2 separate regions of the Homo sapiens genome follow, and region 2 is reported to be linked to region 1. The links are microRNA targets in miRTarBase. Many come from high-throughput screens and were not tested one by one. Region 1 holds a microRNA gene; the other region holds the end of a gene's coding sequence.

Region 1 (5,385 bases):
TCCTCAAGGAAGTTCCCTGACCCTTCTTACCACCAAGACTGGATTGGTCCCTCCTATTATTTGCTCTCATAGTACCTTACTTTTATCTTCTGCAGAGCTCTTCACACTTGCAATTAGCTATTTGTTCGTTAGAATTAGTTCTGCCTTTTACGTTATATACTTTTGTTTCTTCCATGTCTCCTGGCTCCTGTTGCAGTCCAGGTATACACTAGGTGTCCAATAAGTATTTGTTACCTTTTTCTTTCTGCACTTAGATCATTCTTTCTCAGATCCATGCTTATGAATCATAAATGTGCATTCCTTGTTCTGATATCTGTTCCAAAAGTGGAATCCTCTTTCTTCCATTGTGAAATTGCCCATTTCTTTCTTAGTACACTCCAGGCTCCTAATCTAGTCAGGAAAGTTTGGCATCATTCTTGACTCTTTGCTTTCTTTTCTGTTTGAGCCAGTTCTTTGGAAGGTGGTTCTGATATATCGATATGGAAAGATGGCCACAATATTTTAAGTGAAGAAAGATTTCAGGCCGGGTGCGGTGGCTCACGCCTATAATCCCAACACTTTGGGAGGCTGAGGCGGGTGGATCACTTGAGGTCAGGAGTTTGAGACCAGCCTGGGCCACATGGCAAAATCCTGTCTCTACTAAAAATACAAAAAATTATCCAGGCATGGTGGTACGTGCCTGTGGTCCCAGCTACTTGGGAGGCTGAGGTGGGCGGATCACTTGAGGTCAGGAATTCGAGACAGCTTGGCCAACATGTCAAAACCACATCTCTACTAGAAATACAAAAATTAGCCAGGCGTGGTGGTGAGTGCCTGTTGTTCCAGCTACTTTGGAGGCTGAGGTGAGAGGATCAGTTGAACCCAGGAGGCAGAGGTTGCAGTGAGCCGAGATCACACCACTGCACTCCAGCCTGGGTGACAGAGCGAGACTCCATCTCAAAAAAAAAAAAAAAAAAAAGCTAGAGAACATTATGTATAATTTGTGATGTTATTTTCTCTAAGTATAAATACATGCATTTTAAGTATCTTGAAATATCTGTGAGGCTATACACCGAACAGGATGATGGAAGGGGGTCAGCCAGTAGGCTTTTATTTTGAAAAACAAAAGCCAAAGTATGCCTTTTTGAGATAACCTTTCCTTTCATTCCATTCCTGTTGACTCAGTTCTACCCCTGCTAACTTGTGCAAGAAAGTTCTCTTTTTTCTCTTTTCTTCCCCTCACTTCATCTGCTTAGTGACTCTTCCCAGTCTTGCTTTCATTGTCTCCTTGCTGAGTTTAGCATTTAAAACGGCTCTCTGTTGGACTAATTGACTTTGCGCCTTGCTCACAAGTCCTTCTGTAATATGTCCTTTTACCTTTTCAGTGCCATTCCTTATGACTCCCTAATACAGTCTCTGGACTATTCTCTTCCTGTCCCCTATACATGCCATGTAATTTTTCTGTTACAGGTATTTATTTTGAGGCCTATCTGCAGAAAACACCCTTTAACTTACATAATTGTCTCCCTTCTTGTAGTACTTAGTTTTATCCAAGAGAAAACTTGGATTTGGTTTAATGAAATATATAATTGTTTCATTGGCATATTTAAAGACTATGTAATAGTCTGTAAATAAATAGCATGCTTGTTCAAGTGTACATTTTTCAAAGTACGTGTCAGACATTCTTTTCTAATGTTTTCAGAAATTTTGGAAATAATTGGTTAAAAATAAATGCCTAGAATGCACAGCATCTTGAAAAACAAGACTGCGTGGAGTACCTTCTGTGTGTCTACCAGTCTCACAAAAAACTCTTCTATAAAGACCCCCTCGGGCCGGGCGCGGTGACTCATGCCTATAATCCCAGCAATTTGGGCGGCCGAGGCGGGCGGATCACTTGAGGTCAGGAGTCTGAGACCAGCCTGGCCAACATGGCTCTACTAAAAACACATTTCTTCTAAAAACACAAAAATTGACTGGGTGTGGTGGCGGGCCAGCTACTTGAGAGGCTGAGGCACGAGAATCACTTGAACCCAGGAAGCAGAGGTTGCAGTGAGCCGAGATCGCATCACTGTACTCCAGCCTGGGAAACAGAGCAAGACTGTCTCAAAAAAACAAACAAACGAAAGAAAAACACACACAAAAAAACCTTTTGGTAATTTCTTTGGGTAGGTTTTAGTTTTTTAGATAGCGTAAATCCAAATCCATTCATTTCCATAAAACATCAGACACAATTTGATGTATATTTGGCCACCAAACATGGTGCAAAATTTTATGTAGTCTGGAGATACTTAAAAGCAGCACAAATGTGACTCTACCTGTCTGCACTCAGCAGAATAGTGGCGATTTCAGGTGGTGACACAAAAGGTTGGGCAATAGTTGAAAAGTGGATGACATGAAATGTGGTGGTGGGATGGGGGCAGGAAGCCGATGTTAAGCTAGTGAACTTTATTTACTTTGCTTCCAGCTTCCAGTGACCCAAAATCACCTCGTCTAGAGTAGGGCTCAGGAATTTGCCATTTTAAAAGCAACTCTAGATGATTCTGGTGTACAAGAAGTTTGGGAAACACTGGCTTGAACCTGATATTTTCTCTGAACTCTCATAGTTTTCTTTAGATTTTTCTTTTGGCTTTGATTTCTCTTTCTGGTTCTTGTCTCATTACCCCATCACTTCTCCTTCCTAATTTGACAGGAAAGCCTTGTCAAATTAAGGCTTGCTTAATTGTCAAGGCTAATTTGACAAGACTCTTCTCTTACTGTCTTATTTGACTTTTGCTATGAGAATCTGCTTCTTCTTAGACTTAAGTGTATGATAAATTATTCATGACCAAGGGCCTTGTTTTTCTTTCTTTAACATGGGATTTAGTGGCTTATCTCATGTTACAGGATTTAGAGAGTTGATACTACATTTAAATTTTTTGTTAAGAAAAATGTACATCTTCTATCTCACTTAGGTGTTTTTCCTGTTTGAGGGACATGGTTTGCAAAGGTTAGAATGAATGAGCCTCATAGTTTTTGTCAAAAGAGAATATTGATGTACATCTGAATAATAACCAGAACATTCATATTAAGTCATACTATATAGCCATTTAAAAGAATGACGAGTACATAAAAGACTGTTGTGGAAGTCTATGATATATAGCTGAATAACAAAATAGATTATAGAACAATAGGTAAAAATGAGCTTATTTTTGTCTAAGCCACTCTCCCCCCAAAACATGCAAAATTACAGCTATTTATCTGTGTATGTATGGATAAAGGTCTTCAAGGATATAAAATAAATTCTAGTTATGATATTTATTATCTTAATAAGTTTATTATAATTATACATGTTTTCCTCCGAGGAAATGGATTGCAGATGATGATTGAAGGGATTTTCAATTTTTACTTTGTATATTTTTGTATTTGAATTTCTAAATAATAAGCATATGATTCTGTTTAGAAATTCTGAATGTACTGATTTTTAAAATGTGATGTGATATCCAGATATGTATTTAATTCTTCCTATAAAATATCATTTCCTTAAATCTAGACTATTGAAAAAGGAGAAAAGTACTAGGAATTTAGAGAACTTACTCCATGTTAGAACCAAGGAGAACAAGAAAAGCTTTAGCTAGTGTTTTGGAAATAGTAGCAGCTCCCACTCACAGCAGTAGCTGCTGCACTCAGGCGACTCTCTGCACATGCTTTTGCTTCCTTTGGGTTGTTTGGTCCGCAGTTTGCATTCATTGATCAGTGAGTTGATTCAGACTCAAACCCACCGACAGCAATGAATGTTGAGTGCAGCCATCAGTGTTTTCAGTTGGTGGGGTTGCCTTTGCCCTCCCTGGCTGACTCCTGGCTCTTCTTTTCCATCTCAGTTCTTTGAAGTCTGTGTGTCTGGCTTCTCCCTTAGTAACCAGCCATCTGCATGATTGAGGGCCCACACAGGTGTCCATAACATTGACATTGGAGCTGGGAGGTTATTGCAGATGAGGAAGCTGTGGTTCAGAGAAGGAAGGAGTGCTTGGAGAACCTCACAGGTAGCACTGCGCCACACAGGCAGTGCTTGCATATTAGTACCTGTAAACCACAGCTGAGGGACCTGCTTTTCCTCTTTGTTTTGAACTGAGAAGTATGAGTGCTTTTTTGAGGTAAATTAGCAGATTATGTTGGAGTTTAATAATAACAGCTTACATATATTGAGCATTTGCTGTGGGCTAGTAATGGTACAAAGCACCTTATATATTATCTCATTGAGTCTCAAAACTCCATGATAGGTACTCTTAGCCTCTGTTTTATATGTGAGAAAACTGAGACACTTGCTTAGGGGGTCAAATAACTAGTTAAGGGCTTGAGCCAAGATTCATCCCAGATCTGACTGACTCCAGGGCTAAGTTTTTGCTTGAATTTAGCAAACATTTAAATAAGCATATGTGGGGATATGTGGGCACTAGTAAGGCAATAGCTCATGCTCTAACTGGGATATCAAAAATTAACCATATTAACTATAATTCAAAGTGAAATGTGATAAGAACTGTCACAATTGGATAATTTTGTGCTATTTTTGCTTATTAAATCCTCCCCTTGCCCCTAATTAAAAATTTTGAGAGGATGTGGGAGAAATGGGAGTAATTATTTAACTGGATTTTATTCCAAAACAAAATACGTATTTTTAATAAATTTTTACTTGCTACGTCCTGTTTCTCACCAGAATGGTGCATATCTAGGAGACATGTAGGTACATTAGATATCATCATGGACTGCTCCTTACCTTGTTGAAATGAAACACTTTTTTTGTAAAAACAAACAAATAATAATAAAACACACAACAGAAAGCAAGGAACAGTGAGCAGTAGGAATAAAATTCACTGGACCACATTTGGGGGATTGCAGGACCATTTCTGGTGAACTCATGTGACATGTGAAGGTACAGCTTGCTCTTTTGCTTCAGGAAATGTAGTGTCGTCTGTAAGGACCCCAAGGTACAGTCAACGGTCAGTGGTTTTTTCAAATCCCAAACTCACCGACAGCGTTGAATGTTCCTTGGAGTCCTCTGAAGGCTGGCCTGATAGCCCTTCTTCATTCTCCCATCCACATCCCAAGAACCAGTGAGCAGTGAGACCACCGCTGATGGATGCTCTTACATTCCTCTCTGGGTTTCAAGTCGAGAGTATTTAAATTATAAAATCAATTTGTGTGCAGCAGAGAACTAATGAACTGTGGGATAGACTGTGCAGTAATTTGTACAAGCAGACTCAAATGAATGTCTGAGAAAATGTCTTTGAATGGTATTATTTTGTGATTCTAAAAATGTAAAATACCTGATTTTGCAGTAGTATTTTAATTGTTAACAAGGGTAAGAGATTAACATATATTGGGGATCTGCTATATACTAGGATTTGTATATTTTATCTCATTAAATTCTCA
Region 2 (5,385 bases), not on the chromosome of region 1:
AAGACGTAATATATTGGTAGAAATTATGTTAATGATGATGATGATAGCGGTAATAGAAGCTAACACATACGGAGGACTTAGCGCACGCCAGGCACTACTCTGAGCATTTCATTTATATTATCTCAGTTTACACACATTAATTCCAAAGAAAGCCTTTGAGATAGGTGCTCTTATTACCCCCATTTTACAGATAATGAAACTGAGCTGTCAGTTTTCTTGTCTGTTCCTCTGCATTATCTCAATTTTTTAATAATGAGACAGTTTTCATGCATAACACATGCCAAAACCCCATTAATGATTAAGAGAGAGACTGGAGCCAATATTTACAGAACACTTGCCATCAGGTCTCACTGACCCTTAATAACATCCCTGTGAGGAAGGCATTACAGGTGCCAATTCAATCACTGAAGAACTAGAGGTTCAGAGAGGTGGCATCACTTTCCCAAGGTCAAAGAGCCAGTAGGTACCTAAGGATCTAGGATTTGATCCCAAAGCTCATGCTCTTCCATATTAGTTGGGGCTGAGAGATGCTTAATCAGTCTGTGCTGATTCGAATTCACTTTCCTTCCTTCCTCTCTGTGTTTTTCAGTGTAGAGTATGATTTTCGGCAGCAGGAAGGCAGGTTCCATGAAGTTTTGCAGAGTCTGGAGGAAGCAGAGCCAGTTGAGGAGGCATCGCCCCCACCAAAGTCCCCAGCAGAACCCCCAGCCCCGGAAAAGCAGGACTTAAGGCGGAAAACCAAGAAGGTGAAAAAGAAATGCTTCTGGTGGATCTGAGCTGGTTGGGACCATCCCCCAGCCCCCCAACTCCACGCACTTCCCTGAGATGGGAAATCCACTGCACTTAAGGCCTGCCCTGCTTCTTTGCAAAGGCCCTGGGCTGTGAGCCCCTTGGCCTGTGAAACAGAAGAGCCTTGGAGCTGATGTAGCCGCTGCTGGACACCTGACCACGATCCTTACCTGAGTGCGTGCGACTGCTTGCTGAGGGCTTCACGGACACTAGAGTGACCGCTTGCCAAGTTCCCTGTCACACTCAGCCAGAACTCATGCTGAGTTTTAAGACCAGATTCCCACCACGAGCAAAACCCCACACTACACCTTCCAACACCTCCAAGATGCCAAGCACTTCCTTCCCATCCTGGGTTCATAAACCCAAAAGAAAAAAATAGTGTTGTGCAGACCCGGAAGGTAGAGGGAGGTTATAGGTTATAAGCAGGTACCATAGAAAAAAATGAGATAAACTGGCAGTTTTCTAAGATATCAGCATACATAATAAGCACAAGAGAAGTGGGCAGGGCATAAAATGCTTATGCAAGATCACCCTGGTGTGTTGGGTTGTTTTCCTTTTTAATTAGCCCCTTGATCCCAAATTAAGGCTCTGTCATCTCATGGTGCATGCACCTTTCTGCCTGTGGCAGAGTCAGGCCACCCCAGGGTATAAACTTGTTGGTGTGGCTGTGCTGGATAAGTGTAATTCAAAGAGGATTTCAGCAGCTGTAGCTGTTCCAGGGCCCACCCTAAACCATCATGCTTCTTCTCTGCCTAGGGCCTGAGACCACCTGGCAAATGGGTGGAATCTGTTTTTGGTGTGAACTTTAAGACTCCATAGTTAACTTACCTGCAATATTTAAAATCATGAGATCCAGCAACCTGTCCATCAGTTACATCTTATGAGTAACATAGATAAGGCTAAGATAAAACACAACACTGTTTCTCATCCCTTCATCCCAGAAACAGCCGTGTAGATAGGTTCAAACATATATTAATCGACACAGTCTCCCTTCCTGGTGACCAGACAATGGTCACCTGATTGAAAAACTAGCAGGACTATGGATGAGGATATAGTTTTTTCTATTTGAGGTTTAAATATCTTTCCATCCCAAAGTCTGAGTTATTCAAGGTCTGGCTCATTCTGTTGACAAGACCTACATACATGTGGATCCAGTCAAACTTGCATGGCTGAACAAACTACTAAAGTAATATAATTAAGTAATTGCTATATACTCTTGTGGATGAGGGGTAGGATGGAAAGGCTCAGATTCCTTCTGGTTGAATTAAAATCTCTATCAGCATGTGGTTAGATTGACATTGCTAGAAAGGGAGCCTGAAACTAAACATACATTAAACGAAGAAGGTATTTTGTAATTCCCTTGGCTGAAGATCCAGTGTCTAAGCTAGAATCTTTGCAGAGCACAGAATCCTGTGTGTTCGTGGGATGTACCTACCCCACTGCAAATTGAGCCTAATTGAGCAAACCACTCCGATGGTTTCACCTTCCCCTGTCATAGTGATGCAGTGAACAAAGCTATTTCAGTGAGAATGAAAGGGAAATTTGGCAAGGAATATCAGCTTGCACTATTTAAGTCTTGGAATGTCATTCAAGATGTTCTTGTTCTGTTTCTAGTGTAATGTTTAAGCCCACAGAATCAGACCGGAATATATAACGTCATGTTAGAATTAAGATAAATACACTTGTCATACTTAAGAAGCCACATTTCAATAAGATATGCTACCACTGGCTAAAAGCCACAGATTTTTTTTTTCCTGTATCCATACGATCAACTGTCAGTTGGCCCCAGCAATGGAAAAGAACAGAATAGAGGATAATCCAATAAAGTGAAATCATTTGGGACCTCTTATGTAATTTTATCTTGTAGTAGAGCTTCCATCTTAATTTGCTTTGCTTACGCTAATTTCATGTGAATTTATATTCTCGGGCATCATGCTAGAATGTAAATAACCCTGTTCCCAGAATTAAGAGATCCAGGCAACCAAGCAGTCTATACCACTAGCCTTTGGCAAATGGCTTAAATTTCCCGGCCTGTTTGTCCATTCTTGAATACAGATAAGAACATATGCTTTCCTACTTTATAAACTCTTAGCACGTTCCACATTATGTGAGCTGAGTGACTCAGAGCTGAGCTGGATTACTGGCCAAAGTTAGCCTGGGAAGATAAAGAGATGTTTGAGGTACCTCACACAAAATTAATAAGCTGATGTGGTCATAGATATGTTTCCAGTTGAGGCCCTCACATGAACCCTTAACTGAATTAAATAAAACTGGGACTAGAAAATGTTGACATTTTCTGCACTTCCCCAACAAAAAAAAAAGAAAAGAAAAGAAAAGAAAAAAATAAATAAAATGTTGACATTTCTAGAAATACAGCCAAACAAGGCTGTACTGATTCTACACCAAAGCACAACACCGCATTGCTTGGGCCACTGACCTGAAACTGGGAAGGAGTTCTCTTCTGAAAAATTGATATTTAAAATCATTATGAGGAAATAGGATTCCATAAACATTTTCCTGATGAACAAAAATGGTCGTCTCTATGTTTAAAACACCACACACACATATACCAAAACTGCATACTCACTTATTCATGTGAAAATCACTGCTTCTTTGTAAAATATTACGTAACATCTACCATGATATTCTACAGAAATGCTGTACTTGAGGTTATCTGGTTTGCTGGAGAGATATTAACTTAGCAAAAATTACTTTTATAAAATTGAAAGGAAAAAGACCAATACATCAACTTAAATTGCAGGAGTTTATGTAGCTGCTTTCTCTGTAGTTTAAAAAGCAATGCATAAATGCATACTCACTATCCTTGGAACTTAATACCAGCTCATCTATAGAGCACCTTCTTAAAGACGATGTACTGATGTAAGGTTTTGTAAATTTCTAAACTGTTTTAAACGGGATATTATCTTTTGCAATAAACTTACATATTTTTTCTAGGTTTTAAGACTCCATTACTAGCTTGGGTTGATTTCAGTTATAAAATGTATGCTTAAGAAGGACACCTCAATGGTCCTAAGGGCAAGTATGGCTTTCATTATAATTGCTTCTATATATTTCTAAGGGAAATAAATAAAGAGCAGATTCAGAACTTAGTGTCACGATGATCACATGAAGCCCCGCGTGTCCCGTGAGTGAGGGAGGCAGCATGAATAAATGGAGAGCTGCTCCCAGCCTCATTCCATGGATGTACAGGCATGATTTGTATCATTATACTCAGACACCTGAACTCTAATTTATCCAGTACTTTTCTTTATTTCCCCCTTAATTTTTTTCCTTAAAAGGCAAATTTATATCGCCAATGTGAAGAAAAACAATATCATGTTCCAAAAATAGAATATGAAATAAAAATATCTTATTAAGTTCTTGCTAAACCCTGTTGCTATTGAGGCTGCTAAGCCTGAGACCAGCTCTCTGTTAAGATGGGAGATTAGCAAATATTCAACACATACGAAAGGCACATTCACACCAAGCCCATTTTCTACTTGACTAAACAGGATGTTTGAGAGAGAATTGAAAAGAAAACAACTTTCCTGTCATGTGATTCAGTATTCCTTTTCCTGCCTTCTCCACGAACCATCTAAAACCAGCTTGGGTTTACACCTGGAGAGTGAGTCTCCCACTTTGGGAAACATCAATTTAGAGAAACAATAACAAAAACAAACCCTGGACATAGAATCAGAAGTCTTGGGTTTGACAGCAGTCTGCTATCTTATTTTTGCTGCATAAACTTGAGCAAGTTGCTTAGTTTCTGTGAGCCTCTGATTCCTCTGATATACCCCCTGCCTCCCAAGAGTGCCTTGACAATGAACTGAGTGACAGCCAAGAACACAATGTAGGGTACACATTGGGCCAGGTGCTCAACAAGCACATATTCAGTCATTTGTGGATTGAAGTAAATTGGGAGAGAGAAAGGAAGATACCTCCGTGAAGCTGCAGTGGTTTTCAGAAACAGGTTTTTCTCGGGGCAAGGGAAGAACACTTTCTGTGGGCACGATGGCTCACACCTGTAATACCAACACTTTGGGAAGCCAAGGTAGGAGGATTGCTTGAGCTCAGGAGTTTGAGACCAACCTGGGCAAAGTAGTGAGACCCCGTCAAACAATTAAAAAATTAGTCAAGAGTGTGGCTCACACCTCTGGTCCCCACTAATCAGGAGGCTGAGGCAGGAGGATAGCTTAAACCCAAGAGGGCTGGAGTTAGCTGTGACCATGCCACTGCACTCCAACCTAGGTGACGGAGCAATAGTCTGTCTCAAAAAAAAAAAAGAAAAAAAAAAAAAAAAAGAAGGATCCACCAGAAACCACGACAGTTAATGTTAAGTAATAAAGTCGCCCATGATTCAAAAGAGCACATGGGCACATAAAATACAGCACAGCACTCCGGGAATTAAAGATTCTTGTTGTGTGGAATCAAATATCCTAGAGGTAAAAGAGACTTTAAGAGCCAGGTCCCTTCCATTTTAAGCACAAGTCAATTAAGGAAGGCTAAATGATTTGTCCAAGGGCTTATAGCAATCCTGTGGGGAAGTAGGTGTTGGGAGCAATGTGGTTGGTGGGTGGAATGTGTGAGGGGCCAGGG

What was found. Region 1 holds the annotated microRNA hsa-miR-181b-2-3p (CUCACUGAUCAAUGAAUGCA, at 3,697-3,716, opposite strand). A microRNA usually pairs through its seed, bases 2 to 8, with sites in the 3' UTR of a target mRNA and lowers its output. Matches are read on the target gene's strand: a 7mer-m8 pairs with bases 2 to 8, a 7mer-A1 pairs with bases 2 to 7 and ends in A, and an 8mer does both.
Region 2: miRTarBase lists INSYN2B as a target of hsa-miR-181b-2-3p. Seed matches in the 3' UTR shown: 7mer-A1 at 2,293-2,299 and 7mer-m8 at 2,310-2,316.

Annotation. Positions count from the first base shown.
Region 1 is chr9:124,692,094-124,697,478 of GRCh38, reverse strand. MIR181B2 (microRNA 181b-2) reads right to left here and starts at 3,769; the gene lies at 3,681-3,769. The region is part of intron 2 of NR6A1 (nuclear receptor subfamily 6 group A member 1); the gene reads left to right. The region is part of intron 1 of MIR181A2HG (MIR181A2 host gene); the gene reads right to left. It overlaps MIR181A2 (microRNA 181a-2), which reads right to left and starts at 5,037; the gene lies at 4,928-5,037. RefSeq lists an enhancer at 1,912-2,457.
Region 2 is chr5:169,859,664-169,865,048 of GRCh38, reverse strand. INSYN2B (inhibitory synaptic factor family member 2B) reads left to right here. Exons shown (of 4, transcript NM_001129891.3): 4 at 590-3,746. The coding sequence ends at 776. The region is part of intron 27 of DOCK2 (dedicator of cytokinesis 2); the gene reads right to left. Among named protein-coding and RNA genes, the nearest start is that of INSYN2B, 120 kb to the left of the region's middle.